2 linked regions of the Homo sapiens genome follow. The protein of the gene in region 1 interacts with the protein of each later gene in a pairwise test. Each region holds a gene or a part of one and is shown on either strand. Other genes may lie near its edges. The genes, in order: MTMR6 and AATK.

Evidence for each region.
Region 2: the proteins of MTMR6 (region 1) and AATK interact in a two-hybrid assay, tested with the Homo sapiens proteins (one study listed by BioGRID and IntAct).

The regions. Positions count from the first base shown.
Region 1 is NC_000013.11:25,280,884-25,284,790, reverse strand, and holds part of MTMR6 (phosphatidylinositol-3,5-bisphosphate 3-phosphatase MTMR6), read left to right. Parts: intron 1-3,907. UniProt on the Homo sapiens protein: Lipid phosphatase that specifically dephosphorylates the D-3 position of phosphatidylinositol 3-phosphate and phosphatidylinositol 3,5-bisphosphate, generating phosphatidylinositol and phosphatidylinositol 5-phosphate.
Region 2 is NC_000017.11:81,163,902-81,167,808, reverse strand, and holds the start of AATK (serine/threonine-protein kinase LMTK1), read left to right. Parts: upstream 1-1,587; 5' UTR 1,588-1,816; coding exon 1,817-1,871; intron 1,872-2,061; exon of another isoform or gene 2,062-2,302; intron 2,303-3,907. UniProt on the Homo sapiens protein: May be involved in neuronal differentiation.

The sequences.
Region 1 (3,907 bases):
CTTAAATTATTAATGTATTGGGAAATAACTTACTTTTAAAAGATTGGTTTGAACATAGCCAAACTTTTGTTTCCATTATGCATAGCCTTCACCTGGATTTAGTTAGTTTGCTGCAAAAATAAGTGTAAGTATTTAAAAAGCAAAAGTGGATTGTTTTAGATTTATTAGCTGTTTTGACCTCTATGTAGTTTAGTCATTAGGATCAAAATTGACCGTAGAGTGTCCTTTATGACTATTTAGTGATTTTTGTTGTTCAGTCAGCTCTATTTGAAAAGTAATAATTACCATTTATTGAGCAACTATATGTCAATATAGCCAATTATACAATATTATTACTTTATAATATGTACAATTGTATAAATCTGTTAATTTATACATTATCATCACTGATCTCTTAAATAACCCTGTCAGTTGGGTAGTATTATCTCCATTTATAGGTGAGGAGGAAATAGGCTTAGAGAATTTAAGTAACCTGCTCAATTAGTTCACAAGAGATAGAATTAGTATTTAAACTAAGGTGTGTTTAACTCCAAAGACTATGTATGCTCTTTCCAGTGCCTCTCTAGTTTTAATCTAATTGTTAAATGTGCATTAGTATTAATTCAGAAATAAATGCTGATGATAATTCTAAGAGCTTCCCCCCCAAACCTCTTTTTGTCATAAATAAATAATATTTATGCGGTATTGTTTTTAAATAATATTTAGGATCATTATTGCTTGCTAACCAGAGATTTATCAGATTAAGTATTTTAGCTGAATACTAATGAACATATTTATCATTCTGTTTTGGTCACATTTGGTTTACTAACTGTATAGCATCAAAGATGCCAAGTCCCTGAATCTGGATTTCTGAAAGAGCATTTCCAAGCTACACTTATGAATCATGCAGCTACTACCTATCGCTTTGAGCTCTCATTTTGCCATAATGACATAGTCCTGCCAAGAAACAATGAGAAATATGCAGAGACAGTTCTTTATGCAGTCTTTCTCCTTTCCCTGCCAGTACTTTGGCTGACATTATATATTGATGTCAAATGATATTGTCTTACCTGTGAATGGAACTTTACTGAATGGAATGGAAGAACCTTTTTTAAGCTATAAATGAAAGGCTGATTGCTAGCGTTTGTAATCAAATGGAATGTCCCATAAAAATCTGATCCTACTAAGGCCCAAATTGAGTTATTCCAAAAGTTATGCCTAACATGTTCTTTAGCTTGCTCCCTCTTTTTGTCATTAGAATGTGAGATCATCTATGTATGTATACAAATATACCTTCCCTCTGAAAGAAGAAAGGAGATATAAAAATAAGAATGGATCAAGAATAAGGAGAAACTGATATTATTTAAATTGTCTTTGAAATAAAAGCCAATAGGTTTTGAGGAGCACCTGAATGCTTTTTTCCAAGTAAAGTGTTGTTTTGATTTTCACTAATACTATCCCATTTTACAGGTGAGGAAACTGAAACCCTGAGAGAATTAATAAAATAACTTGTCCTGGCTCACACAGTTAGTTCTACCAAAGAAGAGGTGGAGGTGGGAACTTGAATGTAGGTCTTTCTGATAGCAAGCCTATTCTCTTAACCACACTCTCTTGCCTCACAGAATAATAATCTAATCAAGAGATTTGATTAGTCAGTTGGGGCAGTGTGAGTAAGAACAGAGAGGAGGGGTGGATAGAAGAAGCTTAGGTGGTCAGATTTTTTTCTAGTAGCTAGCTGAATGTGAGGATCTAGTGTGAGGGAAAAGGTCTGGCCTTGAGTAGATTTGGGAGGGAGTTGTTTGTGTTTAGGTAAATCATTGAAATTTCTATTGTGAATGAGTTTATGCAAGGAGAATATGTTGAGACTCTGTGGAGAAAAGTCTAAACACTTAAAAAGGGACAAGCAGGCCGGGCATGGTGGTTCACACCTGTAATCCTAGCACTTTGGGAGGTCGAGGCAGTAGGATCACTTGAGGTCAGGAGTTTGAAACCAGCCTGGCCAACATGGTGAAACCCTGTCTTACTAAAAATACAAAAAATTAGCTGGGCATGGTGGCGGGCACCTGTAATCCCAGCTACTTGGGTGGCTGAGGCATGATAATCACTTGAACCCAGAAGATGGAGATTGCAGTGAGCCGAGATCGTGCCACGGCATCCAGCCTGGGTCACAGAGCAGCACTCTGTCTCAAAAAAAAAAAAAGAAAAAAGAAAAAAGAAAAAAGAAGAGGGCGAGCAAGCAGAGGAGGAGAAGCCGGATGCATTTGGAAGAGGTGAAGCACAGATGGGAAGGTGACAGTCTTCCGTGTTCTAATTTCCTTCTCTGCTCCATCCTCTGGCTGCTTCCTCCTCCTTGGGCCAGGCACTGTTCTAGGTTCAGACAAAAACTCCTGCCCTTATAACTTATCTAGTTGGAGAAGAGGTAACAATAAACAAAATTAAGTTCAATGTATTGTATGTTAGATGGTGGTAAATGCTGTGGATAAAAATAAAGCAAGCCAGGGCTCTGAAGAGTATGAGGGTTGAGGAGGGGGTTTAAGGGAGGACTGCTATAAATTGAGTGGTTAGGGAAGCTCTTACAGAGAAGGTGACTCTTGAGTATAAACCTGAAACTGGTGAGGGAGTAAGCCATCCCCACATGGGGGATGGCGGGGAGAGTCCCAACAAAGGGAACAACAGGGGCAAAAACCCTTTGAGGGCATGCCTGGTTGCTAAGAACAAGCAAGACAGCTAGAGCAGGGTGAGTGAAGAAGAGCACAGTAGAAGATTAAAGTTGGGGGACAGGGGCAAGTTACTGTAGTCTTGAAGGCCACTGTAAAATCTTTGCTTTTTTTGAGTGAGATAGGAAGCCATTGATGGAATAAGCAAAGTAAGAAAAAACTGAAAAGTGCCCACTGGATTTACGATCTGAGGTTACTCTCTCCCCTCTTGAGGTCCATGACTGTTTCATTTGATAATTTATGCAGCCAGACACTGTTCTAGAAATTGGGATACATGAACAGAAACCATAATCTCTGCCCTCCACTTCCTGCACACAACTTGATGTGCTTTCTTTTTGAAAGCTAATTCTTGGCAGGATGTCAGTGTGAAATGATTCTGAGAGTCCTAGATGAGTGCCTGGCTATAGGGAAGGAGTGCGACAAGCCAGAGGAACAGTGATGGTGCACTTTCTGCTTCAGTAGCCACAGCGTCTATTGTTATGTAGTTGTAGAATAAGTACAACTGTTGGTCACAGAAGTCTGAAGAAGGCCATTGGTCCCTTCCTGTCCCAGAGGCCACTTTTTCCTCAGGGATAAAGAGGTGTCTGAATTTTCTGAATGTGATTCTGTTTGTGTGACTCCCTGTGTTTTTCATTTGGAATCTTTTCTTCTTTTTTTTCTTTTCTCTTCCTTTCCTTCCTTTTCCTTTCCTCTTTTCTCTTTCCCCTTTCCTTTCTCCTTTCTTCTTTGTCCTTTCTCCTGTCTTTCTCCTTTCCTTTCCAACAAGATCTTGCTCTGTCACCTAGGCTGGAGTGCAGTGGTATGATCATAACTCATTGCAGCCTCTACCTCCTGGGCTCAAACGATCCTCCTGCCTTTACCTCCCAAGTAGCTGGGTCTGCAGGAGCATGCCACCATGCCTGGCTAATTAGAAAATAATTTTCTTTTTCTGTAGAGATGAGGGTGTCACTATGTTGCTCAGACTGGTTCTCAGACTCCTGGTCTCAAGCAATCCTCCTGCCTTGGCCTCCCAAAGTGTTGGGATTACAAGCGTAAGCTACTACACCTGTAGTGGCCCCAACATTTTCTGAGTGTGATTCTGTATGTGTGGGGTTCTCTGTGTTTTCCAGTTCTAATTTTATAATTGGCTGAAATTTGAACTTTCTGCCTGGACCATTAGGGTACCTTTTAGTGCAGGCCCATAGTTGGCAACAATTCAACTAAATAGTCCT
Region 2 (3,907 bases), on another chromosome or scaffold:
AACGGCAGCCTGGCGGCAGCGCCCCTTAGAACCTTGGCTGGCCACATGATCAGGGCCAGGAAGAAGGCTCTGGGTGCCCTGTCTCCTTCTGCCCCAGGTGCAGTTGGTGTCTTGTCTCCTACAGCCAGGGACCCCTAAGGTCTGAGGGCACAGGGTGGAGGCCCCTTGCTTTGCCTGTTAGGAGGAAACTTCCTACATGAGGGACCCCCTTAGGAAAAGAAGGGTGGGTCCTGGTGCCCATCTGCCCCGTGGCCCAAGCATCCTGTCCTGGTCTCTGCAGGTCCCTCTGCCGGGAACAGGCTCCTTTCTCTCCCTAAAGTCCTAAGAGCCCTGTTGGAGTGGGCGCCTCTCACCTGCTCCACAGCCCCCAACCCCAACTGGGCCTTGCCAAGGGGCTTAGCCATCTGGTCCCAGAATGAGTGAGTGAATGAATGAGTGAGTGAATGAATGAGTGAGTGAATGAATGAGTGGATGAGGGTGCATCAAACTCAACTGCAAGTCTCCAGGACACTTTTTTTGAGACAAGATCTTGTTGTCACCCGGGCTGGAGTGCAGTGGTGCCATCTTGGCTCACTGCGGCCTCTAACTCCCAGGCTCAAGTGATCCTCCCACCTCAGCCTCCCAAGTAGCTGAGACTACAGGTGAGCGCCACCATGCCTGGCTCATTTTTCTAATTTTTGTAGAGAAAGTGTCTTGCTATGTTGCCCAGGCTGGTCTGGAACCCCTGAGCACAAGCCACCCGCCTGCCCTGGCCTCCCAAAGTGCTGGGATTACAGGCATGAGCCACTGGGACCAGCTTCCACTGAACTTTAACTCTCCCGACTCCCACGGGGGCAGGCTGGGGGGACCCTGCCCCGCCCCAACCCTGCAAGGTGGCACTTTGGGCGGGGATGGGGGATCCTGGGAGAAACATAGGGGAAGGGATGGCCCCTCAGCGCCCAGGCCAACCTGCTGCCCTAAGCACCTGGTACAGTCCACGGCAGGTGGAGACTCAGCCAGGTTCTTCCTTCATGGCTGTCGCAGCACGGTACAGGAGCAGGCCTGTGTGCAAAGCCAGCCACCCCCACTCCACCAGCACAGGTGCCACCCAAAGGGCATGGGGTGGGGGGGCGGCTGCCAGCCGCCTCGAAACCTGCAAGTGAGGCGAGGGCCCCTGAGCACCAAGACCCGCCCTGGGTGTGCTCCCGGGTTCCCCCACCTGTCTCCCTGAACCTTTCCACCTAGGAGTACCCCCTCCCCCACCCCGGCGTTCCCTCCGTACCCACTCACGACTTACCATTCACGACTTCCGTTTCCCCCCCCCCCGCCAGCCTCCGTGCCCCCCTCAGCCCCAGGCCGCCGTGCTTCCCGCTCCGGACCATCCCCCCACTCCGTGCCATCCCCGCTCCGTGCACGGCCCCCCGTCCCCCCTCCTCCATGCCTCCCCTCCGTGTCCCCCCTCCAAGCCCCCTTCTGTGTCCCCCACTCCGTGCTCCCCTCTGTCTCCCCCTCCGTGTCCCCCTCTCCGTGCTCCCCCCATGCCACCCCGGCCGCGGAGGGCCCCCCCCTCCCCCGCGCCGCTCCGCGCGCGCTCCCGCCCGCGTTTTCGGACTGCACCAGCGGAGCCCCGCGGCGCCAGGGCCGGGCGGAGCGCCTCGTCTGTCGCCGCCGCCCCCACCGGTGCGGGCTCTGCGGCTGCGGCGGGGGGCGCGGGGCGCGGGGGCCGGCGCGCTCCGCACCTGCGGCGGCCGCTGGGTGATGCGGCGGCTCGGGCCGGGGCCGCGGGCGTCCTGAGCGCAGCGCCCTCCCGGGATGCCCGCCGGCCGCTGGCCCGGCCATGTCGTCGTCCTTCTTCAACCCCAGCTTCGCCTTCAGCTCGCACTTCGACCCCGGTGAGTCCCTGGCGGCCCGGCCTGCGCGCCGCTGCCTCCCTCCGCTGCGGACGTGATGCCCCTGGGCCCCACGGCTCCCGGTTTGCATGGAAATTAACCCTTTCCCCGCCCCGAGCCCAGCAGCAGAAGCAGCCGGACCCCCTGGCGGCCCCAGATCTCGGAGGGGCAGGCCCTGGGCCCCAGCACAAACCGGCCTCCGCCTGTGGGCTGGCGTCCCCCGCGTGGTCGTGACTCCGTGGCTGCCTCCAGGGCACAGGTAACTGGGGCACGGAGGGCCTGCGTGGGCCCCTGGTGTCCAGGAGAGTTGGTCTCAGACTAAGGGCCCTTGGGGGTGTGGGGGGTGTCAGCCAGCTGGGGTTCAGGCTTTCCATGGCCTCTCCTGGGTCCGGGGCCCTGGCGTGGGAGGCTTCTTCCCAGGCTGGGAGCGATTCTCAGAGCCCTGCCCAGCCACCAGCAGCCGGCGGGGGATGTGGGGGGAGCAGGGGCCAGTCCACATTACAGAGCCCAGTGGGCAGAGGCTCAGAAGAGAGGGGCCTTGGTGGGTGCCCAGATCCCCTGACAGTGGGGGCCCGAGGTGACGCTGTCAAGCTGGCTGCAGGGGACCTGAGGCCAGGCCTCTTACCCCGTATGGCCAGTGCACCGGGCAGGGCGAGATTACCCATGGCTGCCTGGCCTCCTGGCTGTGGTGGACAGCTGGGATAGGCAGAGGGGGCTGGGGACAGCTGGAAGCCCCATCTGTCACCAGGAAGCAGTGGGCTTTCTAAAACCTCTGCTTCTCCAGATCCGGCCCCTGCTTGGCCTGAGTGGGAGATAATCCCCCTGCCCTGTGCCATCCATGGCCCCAGGGCCAAGTCCCACCCACACGTCACTGGGGCTCTGGCACCAGGCTGAGCCAGCCCAAACAAAGCCTGTTTGCATGTGACGTGATCTCCTGTGTCTCCTTCCCTGGAGCAGGGCCCAGTGCACGCAGCCTGGCAGGGAGGCACGGGGGTCCCCGGGGCAGATCTCGGTCTGAAGGCATTTGCTCCCTGGAGGAAGGGAGCTGGTGGGAGGTCTGTCTGCTGGGCTTAGGGCTGTGGGTGTCACTTGCTCAGAAATGACTTCCTGTAGTGACCCCTGGGGCTCGGAAGTCCCTGTGGGGTGGGCAGGTGAAGGCTCAGAGCCCAACAGCCACGGCAACAGCTGTAATGTCTCCCCGGCCCAAGGGCAGGGGGTGGAGGAGGCTTGGGGCAGGTCCTCATCACATCTCCATGCCAGGCGTGGCCCACGGTGCTTGGTCCTTTCTGCCCCCAGAACAGAGAGGACCCTCGGCCCATACCCTGCCTCGGGGCCCAGCCTTGTCCTTGGCCATGAGAGGCCCTTTCCCCCGCCTTCGAGCAGCACCGGCTCTGCCCTTCTCTGGGTAAACAGCTGTGATCTGAATAATTCTAATGTGTCCGTTTAATGACTTAGAGGAAAAGAAGTTGTTGGAGGCAAGGGGCGTCTCTCCTCTGCAAGATGCTGGGCCAGAGCTGCAGGCACCTGCTGGGCTCTGGGGCCCACCTACCAGGAGGGGCTGCCCAAGGTGCTGGTGCTGGTGAGGAAGGAGACCCTCCTTCGGATTAAGGGGCTGGGTCTAGGCTCTGCACCAGCCCCCATGAGAGGGTTAGGGAGGAGAGAGGGGTCTCCTGCCCTCCCGCTAAACTTAGCCCAGCCTTCCAAGCCTGGCTGTCCTGTGCTGCAGTCCCTCTGCCTGGCCTTGCCTCTGTGAACCTCGGTTTTCCCATCTATGACATGGGCCGACAGTACCTGTGGCAGGCCCGGGTGGGCTCAGTGCTTGGTGAGCACTTGGCTGTCTGTGCTGGAGTGGTGGTGCTGGGACAGAGACCCCCAGGGCCCAAGCTTCCTACAGCATGTGGCTGGCTCCTTGCCATCCCCGAATTGGAGCGAGCTGGTTCCTTCTGAGGCTGCTTGTGTCTGTGGGGGGGCACCCAGAGGGGAGGGGCCCACGCTTGTGGCTCTGGCAGTTGGCTTGTGTGTCACTCAGCATCTGGGGC